Linked DNA regions of Homo sapiens. The protein of the gene in region 3 purifies or fractionates together with the protein of the main gene of each other region. This does not show direct contact. Each region holds a gene or a part of one and is shown on either strand. Other genes may lie near its edges.

Evidence for each region.
Region 1: the proteins of MXD1 (region 3) and ARID4A purify together in Homo sapiens (affinity purification with mass spectrometry; 3 studies listed by BioGRID and IntAct, with this or other methods). This does not show direct contact.
Region 2: the proteins of MXD1 (region 3) and SAP30L purify together in Homo sapiens (affinity purification with mass spectrometry; 3 studies listed by BioGRID and IntAct, with this or other methods). This does not show direct contact.
Region 4: the proteins of MXD1 (region 3) and BRMS1L purify together in Homo sapiens (affinity purification with mass spectrometry; 3 studies listed by BioGRID and IntAct, with this or other methods). This does not show direct contact.

Annotation. Positions count from the first base shown.
Region 1 is NC_000014.9:58,294,679-58,301,567, reverse strand, and holds the start of ARID4A (AT-rich interactive domain-containing protein 4A), read right to left. Parts: upstream 3,014-6,889; 5' UTR 2,868-3,013; intron 2,378-2,867; exon of another isoform or gene 1,877-2,377; intron 1,771-1,876; 5' UTR 1,714-1,770; coding exon 1,708-1,713; intron 1-1,707.
Region 2 is NC_000005.10:154,448,983-154,456,006, reverse strand, and holds part of SAP30L (histone deacetylase complex subunit SAP30L), read right to left. Parts: intron 4,917-7,024; coding exon 4,794-4,916; intron 3,552-4,793; coding exon of another isoform or gene 3,534-3,551; exon of another isoform or gene 3,508-3,533; intron 2,606-3,507; coding exon 2,507-2,605; intron 108-2,506; coding exon 1-107.
Region 3 is NC_000002.12:69,910,655-69,918,113, reverse strand, and holds the start of MXD1 (max dimerization protein 1), read right to left. Parts: upstream 3,006-7,459; 5' UTR 2,784-3,005; coding exon 2,711-2,783; intron 1,994-2,710; coding exon 1,894-1,993; intron 1-1,893. UniProt on the Homo sapiens protein: Component of a transcriptional repressor complex together with MAX. In complex with MAX binds to the core DNA sequence 5'-CAC[GA]TG-3'. Antagonizes MYC transcriptional activity by competing with MYC for MAX binding.
Region 4 is NC_000014.9:35,821,799-35,829,351, forward strand, and holds the start of BRMS1L (breast cancer metastasis-suppressor 1-like protein), read left to right. Parts: upstream 1-4,539; 5' UTR 4,540-4,718; coding exon 4,719-4,860; intron 4,861-5,076; exon of another isoform or gene 5,077-5,241; intron 5,242-7,553. UniProt on the Homo sapiens protein: Involved in the histone deacetylase (HDAC1)-dependent transcriptional repression activity. When overexpressed in lung cancer cell line that lacks p53/TP53 expression, inhibits cell growth.

The DNA.
Region 1 (6,889 bases), on a different chromosome or scaffold from region 3:
ACATAAAACTGTGAATGTCATTACTATGCCTCCCTACTCCAACCTCAAGTCTCATTAAAAGGTTGTGTTTGAAGCATTAAGAATATTAAAATGACTTGCTTATTAATATCATTGAAAATTTGAAAAATACCCTAAATACTTGATTAGCAACCTTTCATTTTATAGACTGATGTCCTGATATGATAAAATGTTTTAAAGTTGTAATTCAAAATTATCAGTGATTAATAATGTTTTGTCTCGATACAAAATTTTTCAAAAATTCTACTATTATATAAGCAGAAAGATAAGAAAAAAACAGAAAAAATATTTCATATTACACATATCATAAAACTAAGTTATTCATTTATAGCTTCCTGAAATTTTTCAAATTAAAAGAAATATTGCTACTAATATTAACACTAACAATACATAATTGTTTATTGACATAGCCACATAAAGGTAACATCTTTTCATAAGGAAAGTATCATTTGGAAAATTCATTTGCTAAAAGCTGCACTTGAAAGGTTTTAAGTCTGAATTCAGCCGATGAATGCAGATATGAACTGATGGCTCCAGACTTGTAGGTATACCTAGTTTACCACACTAATCTTCTTAGTATAAAAAAATAAGCGTTACTAAGAAACATCTACTTTCAGCAAATGGACACGACCAGAATGATACATAGAAAGATGTAAGAAATGTCACTCTACCACTCATTTTAATTTTTACAGTAACAGGATGATTGCTATCTCAATCTGTCATTTTACCTTTTTTTTTTTTTTCCGGAAGTTAAAGTGTATCCATACAAGTTCAACTTAACATTGTTAAGTGCAAAGTTAACAGTGTACACTTTGGAGATACGTTTTGAAGTAGAAAATGATTTTTTGTTTTCTAATAAGTTTTCCCAAGTAATATTAAAGAAGGTTAAATATGTCATTTACTTCGAGAAAATAGAAAACCACGAGAAAGTTTGGGAAAATGCTATATTTCAGAGCTTAATATGCTGAAACAGTAAATAAGACAGGAATTGGGTACCTTTTAAAGTAAGTGCATTTACAAAAAATACAAATTGAATAGGAATGCTTTTGGCAAACAAAAATCTGACCTGAAACATTCAATGGCCACAGCATTCAAGAACGCTATATGAGATCCTTTCCCTTTAACCATCCACATACTGATATTTGCAGTCATCCTCAGTAGAATATGTATCTTTTTAGTATATGTTTTAAAATACTTATTGGAAAGATTTAACTAAAACTATTATTATACTTCAACTTCAAATATTTTAGCCACATAAGTTCATTTTACACACAGAAGAAATGATACCTTCATTACTTAATCCACGTATTCTTTCTTTTAGAAAATCGCATTGGCACACGGGAAGAAAAAAAATTTACAAAAAATCCCCCAAAGAACCAAAGCAGGACAAAAGCTTTACTTCTGCAAAGGTTGCTGCCAACACAGGAAGTGTTTAAAAATACTATCCGAATGGACAACAATTGAAAGGCTGCACCAGCCTTTCCAAAGTACTGCTACAGAGAGGGCCTAAACTCCGCATTTAGACACACAGATCATTTTTCACCCATTCAACACATCCTCCTATGCCGAAACTGCTGATCAGTAGGAACATCAATTTTGAGTAGCAAAACAAATGACATTCCACGGCACTAGCCTTAGGATTGGCAGTGTTCAGGGCGCGAGGATCGGGGCAGAGTTGACTCCACTTACCTTCATTTTTGTTGGTGATCTGTGGGGTTCCAGCTCAGCGAGCTATCTTCGCAGTCGCTAGAACTATGGGGAGGGGGAAAGACAGGCACAGACATAATCAGTCAACTGCGGGGAGCGACCAAGGGAAAGAAAGTAAACAAACGCCAGCGGGGAGGGGCAGAATCCTCACCAGCCAAGGGACAAGACCCCTTACGAGGGCAGCCAGGACGCAGGAGCTGAGGGGGCAGCGAGAACCCCACGAGCGCCAAAGGGCAGCCCGTTCCGCCCCGGAGCTCGCCAGCGGCCCACCGCGCCCCCGCCTCGCTGGCCACTTTGACCCGGAATGCTCAACTCGGAGCTCCAGGACAGATAGCTCCGGAAAAGGCCAGAGCTCCCTTCGGGCTTCCCCAGGTCCCCCGCGGAGACGACCGCCGAGCCTCCGCTCCGCGGTCCCCCGGATACCCCGACTTCGGCCCGCGCCCCGCCTCCGCCGCTCGGCCCCCTCGGCCCGCCCCGGGCCCGCGGTGGCGGCAGCGGAGTGTCACGGCGCCATTGCTCTCCTTCCTTCGCTCTGCACCATGTCAGAAAGGAGAAGCGCTCCTTCACCCAAAGGGGCAGGGGCCGCGGCCTTCAGCCGGGAGCCGCCAGAGCCCCGGGGGACCCGCGTGGGGGAGGGGGCGGGGGGCGGAGGGGAGGAGGAGGGGAGGTGGCCCGGACAGGGTGTGGGAGGGGAGGGGAGCCGCACCGCAGCAGCCGCTGCCTCCTCCCAGCGCCCGCCTCAACTTTTTGTACAGCCCAGAGAGGTATCAGCTCGTAGCCCCTCGAGTCCTGCCACGGACTCCGCAGAGGTGGACGCGCCGCGGAGTTGGGGGACGGCTCCCCCAAGCAGCCCGCTCTTCACCGCGCGGAAGCAAACTTAGCGGCGCGGCCAGCCCCACAGCCATTTTCCCGGGAACCCGAGGAAGCGGACGAGGAGGCGGCTGCAACTGCGGCGGCGGTTCCTGCAGTTGCTGCCGCTGGTCAATGGCTGGCCCCTTCCCTTGCGCTCGCCGTGCCACTTGCCTAGCATCCCTCTCCCCACCTCCAAAGCTTCCAACTGCACCGGGACCTCGGGCAGCAGCAGCTGCTGCTACTGCCACTTCGTCCATTCAGTATCCCCGGATTCCCCTCTCCCCACCTACCAACTGCGGGTGAAGTGCGCGCTGTCAGCTCCAGAGTCCTCCTCCCCTCTGACCTCCGTGGGCCCCCGTCCGGGCAGCACCACTCCCAGCCGCGGCTGCAGTTCCTGCGCCGGGTTCCCCACTCGCCCCGATTTACTGCCACAATCCACCAAATAACAAGCTGTTGAGCAGACTCGCTTCTACACGAACTCCTATTGGCTGCTCATGACGCCGAAGAGCTTCGGATAGGACCTCGCTACCTGCCGTCCTCATTGGATGTAGCTGTGAAACTTCATGGATTGGTGAGAAAAACAGCAGGTAGGACATCTTCCACTTATGATTGGCTTTTTCCGAAAACCAACTTTATTGGAGAGTTGGTTATTGAGTAAGCAAGTCCTGAGAAATGATTGGTAGAGACGACTCCGGATGTGCTTGACTGGGCACTGATTGGTGAATTGAGGGGTCAGGAAGAGCAGTTCGACACGAGGATTGGCGGCGGAGTGTCCCATGGAAACGGAACCCAGAATTGCAGCCAGGGGCTTGCACGGGGGCGGGGCAGGGTCTGTCCAAGGCGCTTGCGCTAAACCAGCTTGTCGGCGCCATTTTGTCTCGGCAGCGGTGGCCGTAGCTCCATCGCATTTTATGTTTCTGGCGAGAAGGGAACGGAGTTTTCATCAGGTAGATTGGTTTTTGTGCGGCCGTCCTCCACCGTTTCCTCCAGGACAGCACCTAGTCGTGGCCGGAGGAGTCTCAGAGCTGTCAGAAAGGTCAGTTGGAGGCTATGGTTGTCCGATTGACTGGGGGGATGGCGCAGCCCTAGCGGCACCGGCACCGGAAGTGAAGGGGCCGCAGGCAGCCATGGTAAACTTCTCCCTGCGGCGGGGTGGGGAGAAGGGGCGGGATGAATGGGGGCGAGGCTTCCTCTCCCGCCGAGATAAAGAGGTGGAGGAGAGGCAAACGTCTTTCTTGGAGGTTCTCTTTCGGGTTTTCGAGAATGTGAGAGATTTTCTGGGTTCTGTCCCACTGCAATCTTTCCTGTCTTTGGAAGTGCATTTCGGGGACTTGCCATGTTCTCCACCTGATTGGCACCAGCTGTGGGAGCCTTCTTAGTTAAGACAGGGAAGAAGTGGTTCTTAGAAACATCCTGCATGGGTAGAGGTTTCCGCGTGCTCCTCACGGGATAAAGCTATGAGGAAACTGGAGAAAGCGCTGGCTTTCTGGATGCTGAGGAATTTACTTGCCAGCGCAGACGCTTCTTCTGTGACCTTAGACAAGGGTCTGTCACTCTGCACGAGGCTTATGCTACTTTTTGAAAGCAAACAGTGGTTTTGCAGGGACTGAAAACATCTTAGACAAAAGGACGTCCCCGATAAGATAGACGTTGATCTTTTTCTGTTAACATCTTATATTCTGTTAAACGAAACACACATTTTTAAATAGCGGAATTGGAGTATAAAATTGACTAGTTTTATAGAATGGAGTAATTTTTAAAATGTGACATATCGTCAGTAATCCACGTGGACTAAATTTTCTCAGTAAGAAAACAGCCGAGCAGAATCAGTTTTTTATTCGTAACAGTAATTTTGCTCAAAAGTATTCATAAAAACGTGAAATGCATGTTGGCATTTCTAGTGAGTGACCTAGTCACACTGGATAGATCCTAATAGTTACCCTCAATACCTCTGTTTTAAACCCTACTGCTATATTGGTGGCGCCCATAACTAGAAAATGATTGTGTGACTTAACAATTACTGGGTTTTTTGGCAGTTGTGCTGAAGAAAACAGAACATCTCAGTGATTACTGAGGTGAGTCATAAAGTCTAAAAATCCTTAGAATTGCGGGGGACTACCTGGAAAAACTTTCTATGGATTAGTAAAGAAATACCAGAATGGGAGGAAGGGTAGTTAAAAGATGTTTTGTTTGGTCAGATTCAAATGAGTCTGTATAATTAGCTTTCTAGTGTAATATTTTAGAATGAAATCCCAAAATTAGGACATCCTTATGGACTTGTTTACCCATTTACGTGGTTCTCATTTCTGGACTTTGATATACCTCATGTTTTTGTTATAAAACATTATGCGTATTTTTGTGATTTCCTCCCCCCCACCCGCCTATTTAAAAAGTTCTTATATAGAAAAGATCTTGTAAATGGGAGTGTTTAGGAGTGAGGCTTTTTTTTTTTTTTTTTTTTTTTTTTTGGAGACAGAGTCTCTCTCTGTCATCGAGGCTGGAGTGCAGTGGCGCAATCTCGTAGGAGTGAAGCAGTTTTTTAAAAGACCTTATAAAACAATATATTACTGAATTTTCTAGGGGGTAAGCATCCATAATTCTACGATCAAAGTTTAAACTGTTATTATTGAATCCAAATAATGCATGGACATTTGGAAATTATTAAAAAGCCCAAAGAAGAATACAAAAATGTCTTCCCTCCTCCAAAAGGTAGTTACGGTTTACACTATAGTTATATATTATACAAAAGGCTTTGTCTTTTTTGTTGGTTTTGTTTTACCAAATATTCTAGTGTTGTTCATTACCGTCTATTCTTTATAGAAAACATTGGGAATATTGGAAATATCTTATCGTAAAGCATCTTTTATGTCTTCATAGTGTTTTGTGGGATAAATATATCATAATTTATGTAACGTGTTTATTTTTCTATAATGGCAGTAATATGTCAGTGAATATCCTTGTACATGTTTTGCAAAATATTGTGTCTAAGAAGGTCGTTGCAAAAGTAATCGTGGTTTTTGCATTATTGGAATTTGCCATTTGATGTTGGACTACGTTGTTAAATAAATGTGGTTATGTTATACATCATTTTAATGGGCATTTCTCGCTTTGTTCTTTTGGTAATGACTTATTACTCTCTGTTTATTTCATGTTTATTTTATTTTATTTTTGAGACAGAGTCACGCTCTGTCGCCAGGCTGAAGTCAGTGGCACCATCTCGGCTCACTACAACCTCTGCCTCCCAGGTTCAAGCAATTCTTCTGCCTCAGCCTCCCGAGTAGCTGGGACTACAGGCGCGTGCCACCACACCAGCTAATTTTTTGTATTTTTAATAGAGCCAAGGGGCTTCACCATGTTAGCCATGGTGGTCTCGATCTCCTGACCTCATGATCTGCCTGCCTCGGCCTCGTAAAGTGGTGGGATTACGGGCATGAGCCACGTGCCCAGCCTTCATGTGTATTTTAGACAATGAAAATGATGTTAGACAAAAAAGCAAATTCGAGCAGTTTTCGTTTTTGAGTTAAAAATGGGTTGTAAAACAACAGAGACACCATATCAGCAATGCATATGGTTCAGGAACTGTTAACTTACAGTGCAGTGGTGATTCAAGAAGTTTTTTTGTTGTTGTTGTTTGAGATGGAATCTTGCTCTTTCAGGCTAGAGTGCAGTGGCATGATCTTGGCTCACTGCAACCTCTGCCTCCTGGGTTCAAGCCATTCTGCCTCAGCCTCCCCAGTAGCTGGGATTACAGGCACGCACCACCATGCTCAGCTAATTTTTGTATTTTTAGTAGAGATGGAGTTTCACCATCTTGGCCCAGGCTGGTCTCGAACTCCTGACCTCGTGATCCGCCCGCCTTGGCCTCCCAAAGTGCTGGGATTACAGGCTTGAGCCGCTGTGCCTGGCAGTTTCAAGAAATTTTGCAAAGGGAAGGAAAGTCTTGAAAATCAGGAGCGTAGTGGCTGGTCGCCAGAAGTTGATAACTACCGGTTAAGAGCAATCAGCAAAGCTGATCCTCTTAAGGCTACTTGAGATGTTGCCGAAGAACTCAATGTGGACCATTCTACAGTCCTTCAGCATTTGAAGCAAATTAAAAAGTGAAAAAGCTCGATAAGTGGGTGCCTCATGAACTGACCGAAAAAAAAAGTCATTGTTTTGAAGTGTCCTTATCCCTTATTTTTTGCAACAACAAACCATTTCTTGGTCAGATTGTGATGTGCGAGAAAAAGTGGATTTTATACAACAACTGGTGATGGCCAGCTCAGTAGATGGACTGAGAAGATTCTCCAAAGCACTTACCAAAGCCAAACTT
Region 2 (7,024 bases), on a different chromosome or scaffold from region 3:
TCCGATTTCTGGTCCAGTCTACTCTTGTTACTCTTCACCATGTAGATGAAGTAGGCAAGGGTCTCTTTTTCATTCACAGGTATGTTCCTGAAGTGTCGACTCACAGTCTATGTGGGGGGAAAATACCAAAGTTCCTTAAACCATGCACAAATCACACCGCAAATTCTACATTGTACAAAGAAGCGAATGGAGTTGTTTGCATGCTGTGGCGGGAATGACAAATGCTGAAGAACTTCCTGCCATGTGCGGAACTCAGAGTGCCCTTTGCCCTTCCTCCCCAGGGATGTAGGTGGTTTAATTTCCAGGATCCAAAAGTGGCTTTTTAACCTACAACTCTTCCAAGGTGCAGTTCTATTTCAGTGGCAGCCAACCACCTGTCATGGCATGATTTCACAGTCATACTCATGGAGGAGAGACTGGGACTGCTCTGGTTGGCCAGCTGCTACCAAACCTCTCAGGCCTTGAAAGTGGGAAGAAATGTGTCTTTAAAAAATTGTGGGGCAGGCGTGGTGGCTCACACCTATAATCCCAATGCTTTGGGAGGTTAAGGTGGGAGGATTAGTTGAGGCCAGGAGTTCGAGACCAGCCTAGGCAACACAGTGGAGAACTCATCTCTACCAAAAAATTAGCCAGGTGTCGTAGCATGCACCTGTGGTCCCAGCTACTCAGGAGGCTGAGGTGGGAGGATCACTTGAGCCCAGGAGGTTGAAGCTGCAGTGAGCTGTGACTGCACCCCAGCCTAGGAGACAGAGCAAGACCTTGTCTCAAAAACAAATAAAAATTGGGTTAGGCTGGGGATGGTGGCTCACACCTGTAATCCTAGCACTTTGGGAGGCCAAGGCAGGCAGATCACCTGAAGTCAGGAGTCCGAGACCAGCCTGGCCAACATGGTGAAACCCAGCCTCTACTAAAAATACAAAGATTAGCCGGGTGTGGTGACAGGCACCTGTAATCCCAGCCACTCGGGAAACATGGAGAAGAATCACTTGAACCCGGGAGGTGGAGGCTGTGGTGAGCTGAGATCATAGCAATGCACTCCAGCCTGGGAGATAGAGCAAGACTCTGTCTTTAAAAAAAAAAAAAAATTGTGTTAAATGAACAGCCAATTGAACAAATTGAACAGAGGCATCTGAACCCCAAAATTCTTCTAAGTAGTGCATAACTGCCTCCTGAAAGACATATCAGGTTTGAAGGAAAATGCATCATTTACTAATGCTCCTAATACTTCATTCCATAAGTAATGAGAATGCAGGTCTCCTCTTGCCCCACCTCATTCTTTCCCTTCCACCAGGGAGAACACTGGCAAATGGGTGATGTTATTTTAAAGTAGGAGAGGCTTCTGACCTCCTGTGTGTCATCTGGACACTGGTGAAGGAGTTGTTTAAGAAAAAGTGACGGTCGAGCAAGAAACCTCTAAAGGAAAAACCAAAAATGAAACAGGCTGGAAGCCTTTCAGGAAATCTCAATGGATCAAGGTGGCTGAAACAGATAAAAAAAGACAGAGAACTAGACATAAAGAGTGGTTATCTCTGGATGATAGAATTATATTTTTCTTTTCTCCATTTTCCAACTTTTCTGTAATAGGCAGAAAAATATATTAAGAAAAGAGGGATTAGAAAATACCTGCAGAAATGACAAAGACAGAATTATCAAGCCAGGCAGTTCATGTATTTTAAAAATGGCCAGTGGAGCATTTCCCCGTAATCCAAACTGTGTTAATAACTCAGGGCAGGAGAAAACTTTCTTGGGTGCCATTCATTAAAATACTGTCATTACCAACACCAGAGTAGGAGAAATCAAGGAAAAAAAAATAGCTCCTGTAGAACATCAAGGTTTTGAAATGATTAATCTGACACACAAAATGATCATATCTAAAAAGCATTTTGCTAAGCCAGGCACAGTGGCTCACGCCTGTAATCTCAGCACTTTGGGAGGCTGAGGTGGAAGGATGGCTTGAGCCAAAGAGAATCACTTGAGCAACATAGTGAGGCTGCATCTCTATAAAAATAAAATTAGCTGTGCATAGGGGTGTGCACCTGTGGTCCTAGCTACTCTGGAGGCTGAGGTGGGAAGGATCACTTGAAGCTGGGAGGTTGGGGCTGCAGTCAGCCCAGACTGAGCCACTGCACTCTAGCCTGGGTGATAAAGCAAAATCTTGTCTCCAAAAAAACAAAAAGAGGAATCTTCCAAAAAAGATTCAAACAAATGAACACTCAGGACTTAGAATCTGGAGTCATGAGATCCCAGGCTCAATTCTGCTATCAACTTGCTGTGTGATTTTAAGCAAATCCTTTCCTCTTTCTGTGCCATGGTTTCTTTTCTGGAACTGAGGCCTTTGCAGGTCTAAAGCTGTGGGGTTCTAAATTGCCAAAGAGGAATACAGAGTTGCTTCCAGAACTCTGGAGGAAATTACAATTAGCAGACACACAAGGTAAGGGAGAATCAGGGTAACCATCAGAAGCAGCACAATGCTGGCTCTCTTTAGAGGGCAATTTTGTCTACCTACTTCTGCTAACTGGGCCTTATTGAAGCCTGGTCTGGTCTGCAACTTGTAGTGTCGTTTATAACGTCGTAGGGTGTTCACCTGCAGCTGGAACAGATCAACCTAGGGAGAAGAGGAGAAAAATGTTATCCATCACCTGACCACCCAGGACTCACCAAGAGCCCACTATGTGCCTAGCACTACACTAAGGTAGGGGTGAGGATGGGGAGGGCTTCAAAAGAGGTCTTAGAAATGGTCTATTGAGGACTAGTAACTGGCTAGGAGGGCAAAAATAACAGTAGAAAAACAGTTCTGGCTGGGGTGGGCTGATCTCACAAAACTGGTGGAAAAGGTAAAGCTTAAGCTAAGGAGGAGCAGGGTCTGATAAAGCACTGAGAAACGGTAGGGAATAGGGGAAAAGATCACAGCACAGAGAGCTGGGAGAGGCACAGATGGGCAAGGGGGTCACAGGCAACTGTGATGAATTTAAAAGGTGAGAATGGATGGTAGCACATCCAGAAAAACAGAAGGAGCTATCACAGAGGGTGGAGGGCGATGGCGCAGGATGGGTCTGGTGGTGGTTGTTGGGAAGACTGATGGGGGGATACGGAGGGAGATGCTATAGCAACAATCAGAATGAGATGAAGAGGCTGAGCTTTGGAGGGGCAGTGATGCTAGAAGGGACACCAAAGATGGAGAGCAAAGGCAAAAACCAGAGACATCCTGGAGGATGATAGGCCAGAACGAGGCAGCGACCGGATAGAGGAGCACAAAGGAGGGCTGTTATCCTCAAATAGCTCTTTGCTAGGCCCAGCCTTCTGGTATTAGAATCCTTAACCTCCCTCCAGAGAAAGTTCAAAAGTTACTGTAGTGAATGTGCAATCCAGCAGGTTAGGGCTGGGGTCTTTGCAGATGACTGGATAACAGAGGGGAAGGGACCCCCCCTTTTTGTTTCTAACAAAGGAAGAGAGGAAAGCTGCATAGTCATGAAAAATTGAAGGCCCATAAAGTTGGGCTGCCTTTACCTGCCTCTAAAAGAGCTGTTCTTGCTTCAGGCAGGTGGAGAGCACTTAAAAACAAAATGAATGATCAATATGAGGGGCCAAAGTCCTTCATTCTTTTTCAAAACATTCCTCAAAACCTTTTTTTTTTTTTTTTTGGTGAAAACCACTTAGAAATCGAATACGTCCATTTCTTTGTAAAATAACAATAACGTTAAAGGCAAAAGCAAGATTCTGTAAACCAACATTGGAAAAGGGGACACAGGGAGGGGCAGAGGGAAAGGGCCAGATTTTCAACGGTTTCCTCCACATCTGCAGACAAAGGCCCGCCTACTCTTTCTATTCCTACACAGTCATTTTCACTCTGAGTGCTAACAGGCGGTTGCCTTATGAAATATTCATGTGTCAAATATTCAATGTACACTATAAACGGTTCTTCTCTTGCTGAGTCTTGAGTGAAAACAATTTAGTAGAAAGAAAATCCAATATTCCTTCCTGAAGCCTCACTTAATAGACACGGGCACCTGAAGGGAAGGCAGCCTTCCAGTTTGAGAAGCCTAGGTCTCATGGTCTAGCGCAGTGGTTCTCAACACAGGACGATTTTGTCTTGTAAAGGAGGTGTGGCAATGTCTGGAGACACGTTTTGATTGTCATGACTCAGGGTGGTGATGGGTAGAATCTCACGAGGGGATGCTGCTGAGGCATGCTGTTAAATATCCTACAATGCAGAGGACAGTCCCCACAACAAAAATTAGCTGACCCCAAATGTCAACAGTGCTAGAGTTGAGAAAACCGGGTCCAGTTTAGTCAACTTTGAAATGGATCCTTGGGAACAGCCTGGACTAGATGTCAAGAAATCAGTGAGAGAAAATCAGAGCTGGTATGAACTGATGACTTACACCTTCATTTTTTGGGGAAAAGACTTCTCCCAAACCATTATACACTCTCTAAAGGCATAAACAAGGTTTAAAAAAAAGTGACACTGTGGTTGTATTTACGCATTCGTCAGGGGCGTCTTGCAGAAAAGCAGTGTGGTCTACTGGAAAGGGCCCTAGACTAGAGCCTCCAAACTATATACATGACCTCGGCTCTCTGTGCCTGTCTGTAAAATGATGGGGCAGTCTGACCAGTGGGTGTCCAAGCTTTTAGCTCTCAGATTCCATATTACTATAATTCACTTTTCAAATAATCCACAGCAAAACAAAAGGACTAAAATTACTTCTTAACACAAAAAGCAGACCAGGCCAGAGGTGAGAATCAGATTAGAATCCATTCTTCCAGCTTCCGCAACTGGTTTCTTTGACCTTTACCTCAGGAATGTCAGTGTCGTGCTCGGGAGAATCTCCGCCATCGTCACTTGTCTTCCTCTTCCTTTTATTTCGGACACTCTGGATGAAATTTTTGTGAAAATCACAGATATATAGGTGCCTTACCTGATGGAGACAAAAATCAAAGTCAGAGTTGGCCAATTCCTTGGAGACAGCAATAGGTATCTGTCGAATTGCGGGGCTTCCTTCCATTGCAGGGCATTGGAGAGATAGATGGAAGACAAGATGTAGGCCATCATTCCCAGAAGCTCACTACTGAGTTGCAGAACACAAAGAGAATGCTAACATCACACTTGGCAGCGTATCATACACCAAACTTCCAGTGAATGGTGAAGACAGTAAATGGTACAGATTCAGCAAAGGAAGAGATCCCTGCAACAGAGATGCTCAGGGTGAAGGGCCCTGACTAAAAGGGAGGACTTTAGGCAGACAGGAAGCATTCCAGATGGGTAGGAGTGCCAAGACTTTAGAGTTTCCAATGGAGGATGACAGAAAGAGTGAGGAGGCCCAGGGTACAGTGTCAGTTGGGTGATGATGGCTGCCCATGTAGGAGCATAATGAAAAAGTGAGGCATCAGGGGGGTGGGCATGAGAACAGCTTAGACTTTCCTTCCGACAAGACAGAGTCCCTCAAGGAAGCAGGAAGTGATGTGACATTTTTAGAAGACCTGTAGGAGTCATAAACTTATAGTCGACTGGAATGTACTGTCCTGGGGAGGAGGAAAGCAGGACACAAGGGACTGTTGCAACGGTATTTGGGACACTCTATTTTTACAATTACAATAGCTACTATTGTAGGATAATAACTCTTTGAAAAACTTTGTTTCTATGTGTCAATTTATAATTCTTGCATTATCTCACATCTGATCCACAAAGAAAAGTGGAAAAAGATGTGGAAGTTCTTACAAGGTAGAACCACATACAAGAAGGTGGATACTACAGATTTTCTAATACAGGCTGGAGGCACACTGGTAAGTGAAGGTGGCAGCAACAGCTAAGACATGAAGAATCCTCCAAGGCTGGCTGGAGGAACCACTGAAAAACTTTACAGAAACTGAATGCCCAGCAAATGACTTGGGGTTGTTGATACTGAAACAGCTGTTGCACAAATGTTCTGCAGAGACTTCTGAATTTGAGTTTATTCCTTAAATCCTTAAAGATAAAAGTAAGCTGGCAGGAAATCCGCATCAATTAATTCAGACCTTTTCATGGAGAAAATAATGAAAACTGTTTATTTATTTATTCAGATGAATGATCACTTTCATGTGGCTGGATTAGTGAGTCATAAGTACTTTTAAGTTTATACTGTGATGGTGTCTTGCAGACAGGAGGTACTCGAAAAATGTTGATGTACCAATATAGGAAGTCTCCTATATCTAAAAGTGGCTTAAGGCTAATGAAAGCCACCACTTAACATGGTTACAAACTGGGATAGCTTTGTCAGATTCAACTCTGTCAAAGGACTTTCAAACACAGCACATGCCACTGTCCCAAAGAATCCCACCTAGCTGATGTATATACTACTGGACATGCTTTTCTCCAGGAAGAAAGCACAACAAAGCACACTCTGCATCCCTGAGAGGAAGCTAGCCCTCCATGTTAGCTAGACTGGCGAGTCCACTCAGATCAACTGCTCCTCAAGTTCACAGTAACAAACTTCATAGGAGAACAGGGAGAATAGGTGGCTTCCTAAAGCTTTGGCTGGGAGATTTCAGATCAGGACAATAGAATAACGGAATCCTAGCTGTAAGAGAACTTAGCAATCACTAGTGCAATCCCATTGACCCCAATCCGTTTTCTAAATGGGTAAAATGAAGCCATCCAGAGTGAGGAAATGACCTGGCCAAGGTCACCCAGGCCTTCTGCCCCCCCAGTACATGTCTTTTCCTACTCCAGCATTTTCCTTTATACTATTCTCAACTTCCACTTTTCTCCAGGAAAAAAAAAGCAGAAATATGTCAACTGGAGGTATATTAGTATTTTAACAGATCACAGAACACTGCCAAAGTCTATATAAAATGAGTTAAACAGCCTGAATTGAATTTCTGGTGTTGTTATTTAAAAAGGTTCTCTGCTAGACTCTCTTACAAGATAAATAATCATTTTCTCCTTAACCATTTTCAAGTACATACTGGTTTTCAGAAATTTCAGAGCTCAGTGGCCTTTGGGAGTGGGGTTGGGGCAGGAGGGTGGTAGCAAAGGCTCTAGTTTTTT
Region 3 (7,459 bases):
CTTTCTCCATTATGATTGCTTGTTCCTCAGAAAAGGAGCTATTCCAAATGAGTCATGAAGGAAATGATCACACTGAAAGAAAACTGCCTGCTCTTGCCTCACACGTTTGGCTGGTGCTACCTCTAGGTTTAATCATGGTCTCTCAGAAATCCTTACACCACTGAATATATTACACTAACTCACTATCAGTCAGGTGTATGGACAACTGTGATAATCCCGTCTCTAACCATGGAAAGCAAACCAACCCATTAACAGAAGGATTTGTAGCCTTTATTTTTTTTTTTTTGGCATAGTACTGATTATTAAAGAGAAGATACTAGAAAGAATCCATTTCTTGGCTTAAGATTCTTAACTACTATTATTTTTCTTTCCTAATCACCTTTTGGGACCAAGCCACTTCAACATCTCATTTTCTTATCCCCACTAGTGAACATCCCCTACAACCTTCCTGTGAAACTAAGGAAAAAAACAAAGTGTTAAGGTATTAAGCCTCAATAAGTAACTTGGACAATTCCTCTCAAATCATTAGTGGACAATAATAAAAGCAAAAATGGATGATGCTTTTCCAGAAAAATTAACTGAAAGGCCTCAAAATTCTTCTAAACAAAATTAAAAAAATATTGTAACAAAATGCAACACAGCTTAATTGGTTTTACACCATTGCATATTACAAGTCAGTATTAACATCTTTCTTAAAGTGCCTTCATACCCATGCACAAAACTACTGGCTACCACCTTCAGGTAATGCTAAGGTGGGAGGACAAGCAAAACCTACCAGGTAATTACCAGGTTGATCCTTCAAGTGCCATTTTTATTCAAGGGCATGGCACAAGTAATGCTGCTCACATCCTGTGGTTCCACTAACGATACTAAAGAGGTAAACCAAGTACAGAAGACGCAGCAAGAACAAGTGATTTTTAGGTTTAAGTGGGAAATTCCTGGTCTGTATTAAGCCACAGAGGATATCCAAATAGATACTTGCAAGGAGTTATTCATGAGGGTGAGGGAGGGATAAGGATTCTAAACTAGTGACGAAAAGGTCAATGCTTTTAATTTACTGGCAGGAAAGGTATAGTTGAAGGGATCTAATAGAACAAATTTCCTAGCCAACTATATTTTAAGGGCAAAGAAGGGGGGAAACGGGCAGCAACATTGATGGACTATTTGCATGTACCAGAAACTATGCATAGGACTTTAATATGTGATTTAACTGACCATGAACCAAATCTCCAGTGAGATTCACAGCTTTTAAGAACTACGGTATAAGATAATCGATAAGGCTAACATGGAAAAGTTGTAGCATATTAATATTTTGGTATTATATATTCCTCTATCACTAAAGAGGTAGGTTTTAACCTCAATCATTCCTCTTTGCCATTACAAATAGAGATGACAAATTAGAGTATCAAACAAACCACTGTATTTAATTTACATGTCAAGTATGAGATCCTATCACTTATGCCAAGTCAGGTACTTTAATGTGTTTATAAAATCATTACTATGAAAAGTAAAAGAAATGGATAATGTCCAGCATTTTGACTTATAGAAAACTTGCCCTGAATCTGCAACTTCTGAAGGGAAAATACTGTCACCATTGCTAATCTCACTTGAAGCTTCCACAGATTTTTTTGTTCCAAAAGGGAAGAAAAGTGAAATTAAATTTTGAATAAAGTTCATAAAGAAATGTAAAACATTTCTATTTTTCTTTTCAGTTCCCTCAACCCAAACAGAAACAGCTTCCTGCAATGGCTTAAGTCCATGTGTACATTACTGAATCATGACGGCCACAATGTAATTTTATAGGGTTATAATCACAACAGAAAACTTACATTCAGCAGTTTGTGTCACCTACAATATAATCTAAAAGACAGAAAGAAGTATTTACCAAATTACCTGCTACTGCTGTTATTCTTTTTGGATTTGTTCCTCCGTTTTAAGGCATCTCTGTCCTTGTTATTGTATGGTAACATGGAGGCATAACCATGTTCAGCTTCTAGAAAACAGGAGGATCCAGTTAATGAATGGGCCCAGAATATTTAATGCTCTCTCCTCTCTACAGTATTTCCTTTTTCCTTTATTTATCTTTAAAAGAATATTGTGGAAATAATTAAATGGAGTAAGGTGGAATTCTGAGAACAATGATTTAAAAAAAAATTGTGTGAATATCGTCAATTCGGAGCAGGTGTAAGGAGGATTCCAGCTGCTCATTGTTGAGAAAGACACAGTAGTGGCTAGGCTCACGCAGCCTGGGTTTCCCACTGGCTACATCCAGCAGGTTGGTGCGGGTTAAGTGGAACCAGCTCAGGCGAAGGTGCGGGGCAAGCACCGTGAGCCGGGGACCGGGAGGCGCTGCTCCTCTGCCCAGGAGACTGGGGCGCCGGGCCCACCTGGGGGCCGGCCGGGACCAGCCCGGGTGAGGTAAACCAGGGAGGCTATCGGAGGGGGCCCCGGCCACCCACTCGTGAAGGGCTGGGGAAGGGGCGGCGTTCGGGACCCCGGCGGGCGGCAGCCCCTTCTCCACCCCATTCATTGCTTTGGGGCAGCGGCGGCTTCCCTTCGGACCGCGCGTGGGGAGAGCCAGAGGGGTTGGGAGCGCTCGCGGTCTCCCCGCCTCCAACCACCCCCGGAGCGGCTGGGCGCCCGGACCTGAGGCCGGCCCCACAGGACCCCCGGCCTCGTTTCGAGTGGACCCCTCCCCGTCCCCGTGCACCTCTCTCCCGCCGCTCCAGATAGTCGGCCGCCTCCAGCAGCATCTGGATGTTCATCCGAACCGCCGCCGCCATTCTGCACCGGGGGCCGGAGCCACGGGACCAACCCCCACTGCCCACGGGCTCGCTGCCGCCGCCGGACCGCTGTGGAGCCCGCTATGGAGCCCGCTGTGGAGCCCGCTGTGGACCCCGCGGAGCAGGGCTGAGGGAGCCTCTCTGGCAACCACGCTCGACAAGAGAGGGAGGGGGCCAGTGAGCTGGGCACCGCCGACACAGTGACAGAACCCGGAGCAGAGCAGCAGCCGCCACCGCCGCGGAGTGTTTATCCCCGACTCACCATCTCCCCGCCCCCAGCCCCTTCTCTTGACAGGCCAGCTTCGGCCGCGTTCCTCATTGGGCCCCCCAAAGAATGCCCCGCCCCTACACTTGTGCGATTGGGAGAGGGCTTCAGGGCTCCACCCCGCAAAGTCCGCTCCTCTCGCTGGTTGGTCACACTTGACAAGGCCCGGGCTCCACCCCCTCTTTCCAACTGGTGACAGGATTCGCAACTCCGCCTCGTGCTCCTTCCTTGTTTCCCATTGGTTCTATACCAACAACCCGGGCCCCCTTTTGCTTTGTTAGTATTGGCCAAGAGCTGCAGAAGGCAAGCACCTCGCCGGTCTCCCATTGGTGAAGCCTTCGGAAACCTCCCAGCTACGATGATGTCACCTTTCTCCAGGCCAGGCGAGCCCTAAGTGGCTGATGGTCAGCAGCCTGGCTGCTCCTCACCGGGTCTGGCATTGGCTGGGAGGGCCGGTCCGGCGCTGGGCGGCGCTGATTCACCAGCCGCTGCGGAGCTCTGCTCCACCCGGCCTTGCCTCGGACCTGTTGCCAAGACCTGTCCCCGGGGAAAACTTCCGGGGACCTGCCAGGCGTCCATCGAATGGAAGGCTGGCACCTCGTGTCGCCTGGGCGCTCTGCCCCGCTTGGGTTCGGGGCCGGAGCCCTCGGTCTGGTGGCCGCGGCCCTGGAGGTTCTGGGCTTCGCGGAACTCGGGCTGGCGAGGGCCCAGCCTCGAATCCTCCCGAAGAGCGGTGCAGGCTAGTGGCCGGTGAGCCGGGAGCTAGGGCAGGCGCCACGTGGCTGCTGCGGGGCTTGAGAAGAAAAGCCGGCCGTTGTTAAATGCTCGCCGCTCGGCGTTTTTTCTGCCCTCAAGAAAGAGCTGGAATCGGGCTGCAGTATACAGCATTGAGCTCATGCGCCTTTTCCGCACCCCCCTCCACCCCCGGGAAGTGATGGAATAATTAATTACTTTCACGCGAGCGGCTTTTTAAAGCTCAGAGACTTCCTGAACCTACAGAATGGCATTAAACCCTAAGATTCTTTGCTTAAATCTCTTTTGGGGTTTTCCCCTCCCTTTTAATTCTAGATGAAAACACTCACAAGATTATTGTTTTTGTTTGTTTGTTTTGAAAGGGAGTTTTGCTCTTGTCGCCCAGGCTGGAGTGCAATGGCGCGATCTCGGCTCACTGCAACCTCCTTCTCCCGGGTTCAAGCGATTCTCCTGCCTCAACCTTCTGAGTAGCTGGGATTACAGGTGCCCACCACCACGCCCGGCTAATTTTTGTATTTTTAGTAGAGACGGGGTTTCACCATGTTGGCCAGGCTGGTCTCGAACTCTTGACCTCAGGTGATCCACCCACCTCAGCCTCCCAAAGTGCTGGGATTACAGGCGTGAGCCACCGCACCCGGCCAAGAATACTCTTTAAGACGTCTGCAAATTGTGTGTTTCCGCATGGGGTGGTACCAATATAAATGCTTAATAGAATGTTACGTATACAGAACTAAAAAGGTTAAAGATCGGTCCCTAAACCTATTAAAATTTTTGAAATGAAAGCTATCTGGCAAACCAAGCTACACTGCCAATGTACTGACAGACATCTCCAATTTTAAAAGTAGAAATAAAGTTCTTGGTAGGTTGAGTCCCCAAAATACAAATGAGTAAAGCATGAACATATTTCTTTTTTTAAAAGTTTATTATTGTTGCCAATATATAATAGCTTACTATGTGTAGGTATCCTACCTACATTATCTCTAATCCTCAATATAACCCCATGAGGTAGGTTGTGTTAATTACATTTTGCACGTGAAGAAACTGAGGCCCAGGGAGGCTAAATGATTTTCCCTGTCATGCATTCAGCTGCAGACATGGAAACTGAACCTATGTATGTCTCACCCAGAGCCCAAATTACCAATCCTCCTGTTGGTAGTTGTATAAAGACAAGGTGGTTTAAACAGATTTCCAGACTGAGTCACAAAACACTGACAACTCAAGTACTGAAGAAAAAGAAAGACAAAGGTGTAAATGTAATTATGGTGGGAAATATTAAACATGTATTTTTTAATGTCCACAAACCCACTAAAATTAAATCAACTCAATAAATAGAATAAACATGTAGTAAATCATGCCTGACATATAGGCATATTCTGGTTTCAGTGGTTAACTGGATCTAAAAACTGATTCTTTATGAAAATACTAATGAAATACACATACTGAAGGTAAAGGTTTTCAAAGCACAATACAAAGTTGGAAATGAAGGTAGAAATATAACAGTTTTTTTTCTCCATATCAGACAGGTAATGTACTAACGCTGTAACAAGCTCTTTGGGAGGCACATCTCATACATGCAATGGGAACACCTAATTACTATGTTTATGAACTATAAAAGGATCTAAGTTTTAAAAGAGTATTTTTAAATTGGATGTTATTTGTAAAACAAACTTCAAAATCATAAACGAGTGCAATTCTACTAAAGTACCCAAAGTGATAATACTAAAAATGCTTTGATTTCATTATCCTGACATTTTGGATTTTGTATATATTTATATTTTCTCTTTAATTTTATTACAAACATTTGGCATATGTCTTTAGTCTCTTACTCTCAACTCTTTATTTTAACCAAGTCCTATTTCAGTATCATGACCCTTCCTCTACAATCACCCTGACCAGAAAGTCACACTTATTTTTGTCTTAAAAAGGGGGAAAAAAGGTTGAAATCTGAGCCAGAAACAGCAAATAATTTAAATGCCAACAAGTCTAGCTTAGACTCCAAACAAAAATACTACATTATATAAAAATTAGAGAATCAGCTGAAGAATAGACCATGTTCGTTCCTTGGTGGTGGATGAAATTATCAATTAGCCAGCAACACCAACTAGGGATTAGTATAATGAAGACCTTCAAAGGGTGTTTGGTGCCATCTACTGGAAATGAAGTAGTAAGTATAAAACAAAGGTTTTGAGATTCGGAGTTTTCCTAGAAATTATTTTACACAGATGTATGGAATGACCAGTTAATTAAGAAAACCTGAAAGTATAAGTTTTGAAGAAAGAACTGAGAATCCTAAGATAATGAAGAAGTGGTGACTTTCAATACCTAGTGCCTCAAAGGCATGGCCTAAGCATTGACTGACTGAGAGTCACAGCTCCAGAAATAGAAGCTGGGAATTCTAGAATGTTTGAACCAGAATTTTATGACCAGAACTTTAAATAAAAAGTTATGTGTAATAGCATAAACATGGGATGACAATAGTTTATATCTTTGAGCACATATCAAGATAAACTAATTGAGATATATACTTGAAAATGGGGAATTACAAAGACATAAAATATTAGACTTGTCAGATAATCTTTACTGCCAAGTTAATCTCTGCCCAGTCTCCTCTGGGAGGCTTATACTCCAGATGGGCATAGGACAGTATATTAAGAGGTAAATGCCAATACTGAGCAAGCAGCAGGCTCATCACACACTATGGAGTTCTCTGCCGGAGATGCCGCTTCAGAGAGCACCCCAGAGTGGCAGGGAAGAAAACTGTTACCGTATTATAATCCTGAAGTGCCTAAAAAGTTCTATCACTATGGGAATTAAAGCCCCCTATTTATAACTGAGTTTGATACCTCCTAACTACTATGACATTAAAATATATTTTGTCTTATAAGGTTTTGAGGAATTGATTTTGTTCCTCGAAGCAGATAAATCAGGATTTCAAGTTTCTGGTTCAACAGTATCATCTCTTTCTTTGTGGCTATTTTGGACACACTAATATGATACCTAACATCATAATATTAAATTTTAAAAACCTTTAAAAACACTGTTTTGCAAAAATTAGTCACTCTACAAATCTGTGATTTAGAAAATGAGGCAACAGCCAGGGGCCGTGGCTCATGCCTGTAATCTCAACACTTTGGGAGGCTGAAATGGGAGGATCACTTGAGCTCAGGAGTTTGAGACCAGACTGGGCAACATAGTGAGAACTCACCTCTACTCAAAAAATAAATTAGCTGGGTGTGGTGGTGCAGCCTGTAGTCCCAGCTACTTGGGAGGCTGAAGCAAGAGGACTGCTTGAGCCCAGGAAGTTGATGCTCCAGTGAGCATAATTGCACCACACAGCACTCCAGCCAGAGCAGGTAAACAAACAAACAAACAAAAAGGCAATGGCTAAATTGTCATATGTATATCACACAAAACACTATGCAGCAGCTTTTTAAAAGGTAGATTTATATATACTGTCAAGAAAAGATCCCTAAGGCACAGTGTTGAGTAAATAGATTGTAAAATAACCCTTACAGCATTTTCTTTTTAAAGGCCCAAACTATGTATTTTCCCAATTTCCTACTCTGCTATATACATACAGGCATGGACAAAAGATACAAAGCAAAGGATTAGCAGAAAGAATGGGCAATATCATTCTGAGTACTGTTCGAAAGGAGTT
Region 4 (7,553 bases), on a different chromosome or scaffold from region 3:
CATAATCTCCTATTATTCTGTCTGCCTTAAAATTAAACTTAATGATGACAGGAATTTTAGAGCTGGAAGAGAATTTAAAGTTAACACACTGCAAACTTCTTATTTTACAACGGATCAGAGATTATGTGGTTTGCCAAATTTTATCAGTTGGTTACTAGGAGAACAAGGCTAGAACCCATGCCTCCTCCTTTCCACCTTTCCTGTTTTTCCTGGAACAGCAGAAACAGAAAGCAACCACTAGAGGCGCACTGTATGCCAGTGGTTGCACACAGATTTTTATGTCAGACTACCCAAGTTCAAATCTTAGATCTGTTACGTAGTAGCTATGTGACTTTGGCCAAGTACTCTAACTGCTCTGTGCCTCGGTTTTTTCATCTATAAAATGGAGGGCATAATAGTATCGACTTCATAGGATTGTTATGAGGATTCAGTGAATTAATGTACTTAAAGCACATAACACACTTGGCACATTGAGTGACCAGAAATCTAATTGTTACGATTTAGCACACACTCTGATAGCTGCTGATATTTAGAGGCCAGGGATTTTACCCACAGCTGTTTTTGTTTGATCTGAAGTTTAAAGAACACAAACAAAACAAAACAAAAAACATCACTTGAGATAATGTTTATAGTTCTAGATATTTCACATAGAGATCCAAATTTCCGGTTTCTCTTTGAAATCAGAAGGTCTGACATCGGTAGGCCAAAATTCTCAGGTAGTAACAATTGGCTGGGGCCAAATGCAGCTGCCCCCTTTAATCCGTACCACTCATGTAAAGCTTACATCTTTTAACTTGACCTGCCTGACTACTGCATGCCTTTGCACTTGCATTTCAGCTTAAGACAACCTCTGCTCTCAAGGAACTCATAATCCAATAGGTGAGACGCATTTGCTAAACAGTTTACAATATATTGTCATAGGAACAAGTATAAACTTGCAAATTTCAAAATACAGCAGTCAACTGAAGGAACAGGAGTGCCCTGAATGGTAGAGGTGCTGACGGTGATATGTGTTGTCTAAAAAGTGGCTTTGAAAAAGAAAAGGAGAGGAACAGGGTTGTAAAGGAAATAGAATGTGCAAAGACACTGAAATGGGAAACAGCTTGTGTGTTTAGAAACTGTAAGGAGTTCAATTTTGGACAATACTGTAAAATGAGAAAGGGAGAAGTAGGCTGACACTAAATATAATACACATCCCTTATTTTGTATTTTACTCTGTAAGAGATAGGTAGCACTTAAAAGGTTTTCTGTCATTAAATTACAAATCTAGGTTGGGTACAGTGGCTCACATCTGGGAATCTCAGTGCTTTTGGGAGGCTTAGGTGGACAGATTGCTTGAGACTAGAGTTCGAGACCAGCCTGGGCTAGACCCTGTCACTAAAAAAAAACGAAAATATTAGCTGGGCATGGTGGCATGTGCCTGTGGTCTCAGGTGTTTGGAAGGCTGAGGCGAGATGATCGCTTGTGCCCAGAAGTTTGAGGTTGCTATTGCACTCCAGCTTGGGCGATAGAACGAGATCTTGTCTCTAAATAGATAGATAATTAAATAAAATTGCAAATTTAACTGCATATTTTTGGACCTTGTCTTTGAGAATGCAATGCTATACAATCCACAATATTCTATGAACTTTTTTTTTTTTCTCTTTGAGACAGGAGACAGGGTCTCACTCTGTCACCCAGGCTGGAGTGCAGTGGTGCAATGTCGGCTCACTGCAATCTTGACCTCTCAAGTTCAAGCAATTCTCTCACCTCAGCCTCTGGAGATTGGGTTTCACCATATTGGCCAGGCTGGTCTTGAACTCCTGACCTCAAGTGATCCACTCGCCTCGGCCTCCTAAAGTGTGGGGACTACAGGCGTTAGCCACCCTGCCGGCCTGTACTATCTTTCAATAGCAAATTGCCACTTCAAGAAGAAGAAACCCTGTCGTTATAAGGGGTAAAATATAGTTTTAAGATTGGTCTGCAAATGAAGTTTCCTTATCCGTAAAATGGGAATAACAATGGCACCTAACTCAGGGCTATTAAATTGAGAATTAAACTCACTAAACCCATGTAAAGGGCTTACCAAGATACCTGATACAGAGGATAAATGGTCACTTAATGAGTTATGATACCTATTGAGGCTTCCTTGTCTATGTACCCTTTATTTATTTATTTATTTATTTATTTATTTTTATTGATCATTCTTGGGTGTTTCTCGCAGAGGGGGATTTGGCAGGGTCATAGGACAATAGTGGAGGGAAGGTCAGCAGATAAACAAGTGAACAAAGGTCTCTGGTTTTCCTAGGCAGAGGACCCTGCGGCCTTCCGCAGTGTTTGTGTCCCTGGGTACCTGAGATTAGGGAGTGGTGATGACTCTTAACGAGCATGCTGCCTTCAAGCATCTGTTTAACAAAGCACATCTTGCACCGACCTTAATCCATTTAACCCTGAGTGGACACAGCACATGTTTCAGAGAGCACAGGGTTGGGGGTAAGGTCACAGATCAACAGGATCCCAAGGCAGAAGAAGTTTTCTTAGTACAGAACAAAATGACAAGTCTCCCATGTCTACTTCTTTCTACACAGACACGGCAACCATCCGATTTCTCAATCTTTTCCCCACCTTTCCCGCCTTTCTATTCCACAAAGCCGCCATTGTCATCCTGGCCCGTTCTCAATGAGCTGTTGGGCACACCTCCCAGACGGGGTGGTGGCCGGGCAGAGGGGCTCCTCACTTCCCAGTAGGGGCGGCCGGGCAGAGGCGCCCCTCACCTCCCGGGCGGGGCGGCTGGCCGGGCAGGGGGCTGACCCCCAACCTCCCTCCCAGAAGGGGCGGCTGGCCGGGCGGGGCGCTGACCCCCCCACCTCCCTCCCGGAAGGGGCGGCTGGCCGGGCGGGGCGCTGACCCCCCCACCTCCCTCCCGTCCGGGAGGCTGGCCTGGCGGGGGCTGACCCCCACCTCCCTCCCGGACGGGGTGGCTGCCGGGCGGAGACGCTCTTCACTTCCCAGACGGGGTGGCTGCCGGACGGAGGGGCTCCTCACTTCTCAGACGGGGCGGCTGCCGGGCGGAGGGGCTCCTCACTTCTCAGACGGGGCGGTTGCCGGGCAGAGGGTCTCCTCACTTCTCAGACGGGGTGGCCGGGCAGAGACGCTCCTCACCTCCCAGACGGGGTCGCGGCTGGGCAGAGGCGCTCCTCACATCCCAGACGGGGCGGCGGGGCAGAGGTGCTCCCCACATCCCAGACGATGGGCTGCCAGGCAGAGACGCTCCTCACTTCCTAGATGGGATGGCGGCCGGGCAGAGACGCTCCTCACTTTCCAGACTGGGCAGCCAGGTAGAGGGGCTCCTCACATCCCAGACGATGGGCGGCCAGGCAGAGACGCTCCTCACTTCCCAGACGGGGTGGCGGCCGGGCAGAGGCTGCAATCTCGGCTCTTTGGGAGGCCAAGGCAGGCGGCTGGGAGGTGGTTGTAGCGAGCCGAGATCACGCCACTGCACTCCAGCCTGGGCACCATTGAGCACTGAGTGAACGAGACTCCGTCTGCAATCCCGGCACCTCGGGAGGTCGGGGCTGGCGGATCATTCGCGGTTAGGAGCTGGAGACCAGCCCGGCCAACACAGCGAAACCGTCTCCACCAAAAAAATACGAAAACCAGTCAGGCGTGGCGGCACGCGCCTGCAATCGCAGGCACTCGGCAGGCTGAGGCAGGAGAATCAGGCAGGGAGGTTGCAGTGAGCCGAGATGGCAGCAGTACAGTCCAGCTTCGGCTCGGCATCAGTGGGAGACCGTGGAAAGAGAGGGAGAGGGAGACCGTGGAGAGGGCGAGGGCGAGGGCGAGGGCGAGGGAGAGGGAGAGGGAGCTATGTACCCTTTTTTTGAGAAAGTACATCTGGTTAAGTATGTATTTTTCATTGAAAACTAAAGTTAAATCAGGACTGATGGCATTTTCCGACTGCATTTGGTAAAAAATAAATGCCAAAAATATTAGATTGAAAATGCCAAGATAAAACTTCCTTACCTTCTGTATTGTAAAAGTTTCAAGAATAATTTAAAGATTTTTGCACAACACAGAAAGTGCAAGTTATCGTCTATAGTTAATAATTAAATAAAACAGTTTATTAATGGTAGGTAATAAAGGTGCTTAGTAAAACAGATGGTTCTCCAGTTCCCCAGGCTCAATGAGCAGGCAAAGATCCTTTTAGGCAAAAGACATTTTCACATCTAACAGTAACATCTCTGATGGTCAGGCAGGTCAAACAATCACTTGGCGGGAAATAGATAAATACAGACTAAATTCGCACAATCTGTTTCTGTTTAGTTTATAAACTGCGATCCAGAGTGTCAGCTTTCGTGCCTTGTGGGACTTGAAGTCCAGAAGGAAGAAGTGATCAGGGCTGCCGAGGGATGGAAGCGTGCAGCCCCTGCAGGTCTGAGACCTACGAACTACAACTCCCGGCAAGCATCGGAAGGCCGCGTCGTAATTGCGGGCAACCAATCGTACCAGAGCAGGGCAAGCCCCCGCCCTCTGGCTCGGTGGAAGGCCTCCGCCAATGGCAGAGCTCCCATCGCAGAGCCTGCGGGTTAGGTTGTGAGGCCCGGGCCGGGGGCGGGGAGGAGCCAAGGGGGCGAGCAAGCTCGGTGGCTGGGTGGGTTGGGGCGTTCCGCGCGCCCTTCATTGAAGCGGCGGTGGCCGGGCTGGGCGCCGGTAGTGGAAAGCGACGGCGCGGCTGGAAAATGCCAGTCCATTCCCGAGGGGATAAGAAGGAGACCAACCATCACGATGAGATGGAGGTGGACTACGCCGAAAATGAGGGGAGCAGCTCCGAGGACGAGGACACTGAGAGCTCGTCGGTCTCCGAGGATGGAGATAGCTCAGGTGCGCGACCCACTGCTGGGACCCTGAGTCCCCGCGCCCAGCGCGCGACAGGCCGCTCTCCGCACGCCAGGCGGCTGCGTCCTGCTGGGAAAGCGGGGCGGGGACAGAGGGAAGGGGCGGAGACTGGCTCTGGGCCCTGGGCTGCACCCTGACCGGTCGCTGGGCGCTGTCTGGCTCCTGATGGGTCCCGGCGGCGGGGCGGGGCGGGCCTGGGCTTGTCCAGCTCCCAAACGCGGCGTGGTCCTGCCCCCGGTGGTGCTCTGGAGCGACCAGCCCAGGCGGACAACTTCCCGCAGCAGACAAACTGGAAATGCCTCCTCTCCCCAGCCCACCGACCTCTTTCCCTATTTTCACCTTTGCAACCCTCACTTCTCAGCGCAAGTGAGTTGCCGGGACAGAGGGTCGGCTTAGTAATTAACCTCAGTTTGCAAGTCAACTTGCCGGTCAGCACTTTTACATCAGTGTCTTTTCGGGGGCTAACTTGAGAGCGGTCCCGTTCAGTAGCTCCCTGAAGTTTGCAAGACTGAGAGGAAGGGACCAACATTCGGGCTCATTTTGGATCTTCATATGCTTATAAATTGGCTGAGTTTTGGCAGCGTTGAAAATTCTCCAAGTCTTTTCTTCCCTTCAGTTTTTTCTAACTTTGGGCTGTTTTAAATTATTTTGGGTGGGGGAGGAGGGCAGATTAACACTACAAATAAATTTTGCAAACTTTTAGGAATGGTTATTCTAAAGTGAAATGGAATTTGTGATTACCGGGATTATTTTCTTTCGATTCAAATGATGGAGATGAGACTGACTTCTTTGTCTTGGCCTGATTTTGGTCATGTAAAGGAAGCATTGATGATAGGTTGATGACAGCCTAGTATCACCCAGATGCCCTCTTTTCATGTTTCCCTTGCAAAGCAAATCTCCATGGAAGGATATAATTTCAATCAGTAAATCAGCCATCCAAAAATATTTATGAGTGACTTCTTTGTGCAGCACTGGACAGTACTCAATATGAGGGATAAATAGTTATTATCTGGGCTCACTTAAAAAGCTATCATAAGTCACCACTTGATTAAATTGCCAAATGAATGCTTAACTAAATGTTGCTGTAGGAATTCAGAGGCAGAGGAAATCGTTTCAATATTGGGTGGTCACAAAGCCTAGCTGAAGAAGGTGGGATTACCTTAATTATCTTGAAGAATGAGTAGAATTTGGTTTGGGGTGGTGGGTATCCCTGCAGGGAGAGGGATGTAAGAAAAAGTACAAGGGCCAGAGTTTGGGGCTTATTCAAAAGAGCGTGAAAACCTTGGGAGAAGGAGTTGAGCTCGGAAAAGAACAGGAAAGTATAGATGTGAGTGATTTCAAAGAAAGCACAAAACAGGATTGATGAATGCAAGTTTAGGATTGAAGGTAAGAGAAAAACCAAGATACAAGGAGAGTGGCGGTAGCATCAACAGAAATAGAAAAGTGAAAGATTTGAGATGAAGGTGAAAGAAAAGAGTATTTCAGACATGTTGCTTTTTTTTTTCTTTTCTCTCTTTGAGATGGAGTCTCGCTCTGTTGCCCAGGCTGGAGTGTAATGGCGTGATCTTGGCTCACTGCAACCTCCGCCTCCTGGGTTCAAGCAATTCTCCTGCCTTAGCCTCCCGAGTAGCTGTGATTATAGGCGGGTGCCACCACACCAAGCTAATTTTTTGTATTTTTAGTAGAGACAGGGTTTCTCCATGTTGTCCAGGCTGGTCTCGAACTCCTGACCTCGTGATCCACCCACTTCAACCTCCCAATGTGCTGGGATTACAGGCATGAGCTACCATTCCCAGCCTTTTTTTTTTTTTTTTTTTGAGAAGGAGTTTTGCTCTTGGCACCCAGGCTGGAGTGCAATGGCATCATCTTGGCTCACTGCAACCTCCACCTCCAGGGTACAAGCAATTCTCCTGCCTCAGCCTCCCGAGTAGCTGGGATTACAGGCATGCGCCGCCACGCTCAGATAATTTTTGTGTTTCACCATGTTGGCCAGGATGGTCTTGAACTCCTGACCTCAGGTGATCTGCCTGCCTCGGCCTCCCCAAGTGTTAGGATTATAGGTGTGAGCCACCGTGCCTGGCCGACGTGTTGCTTTTGGAGTGATGGCAGTATGCTTAAGATTGCCCAACTGACAAATGGAAATGTGACATTGGAACCTGCCCGATATGGGAAGGGGAGAATAATTTGTAAGTCATCTGCCTTGCCATGAAAGTAGGTGAGATTTCAAAAGCGGGGAATATAGAGAAAGGAGACTGTATGGGAATATATTTCTTTTTTTTTTTTCTTTTTTTTGAGACAGTCTTGCTCTGTCACCCAGGCTGGAGTGCAGTGGCACGATCTTGGCTCGCTGCAACCTCTGCCTCCTGGATTAGATTCTCCAGCCTCAGCCTCCTGAGTAGCTGGGATTACAGGCATCCTCCAACACACCCGGCTAATTTTTGTGTTTTTAGTAGAGATGGGGTTTTGCCACGTTGGCCAGGCTGGTCTTGAACTCCTGACTTCAAGTGATCCACCCGACTCTGCCTCCCAAAGTGCTGGGATTACAGGCGGGAGCCACTGCACCTGGCCTGTTGGTGAATATGTTTCTTAGATCTATAAAGTATTTTGTCTTCAGATGTTCTTGCATTTATGATAGGAGCAAGGATCTCATAAAATTCTATTTGTTAAAATTCTCCCCC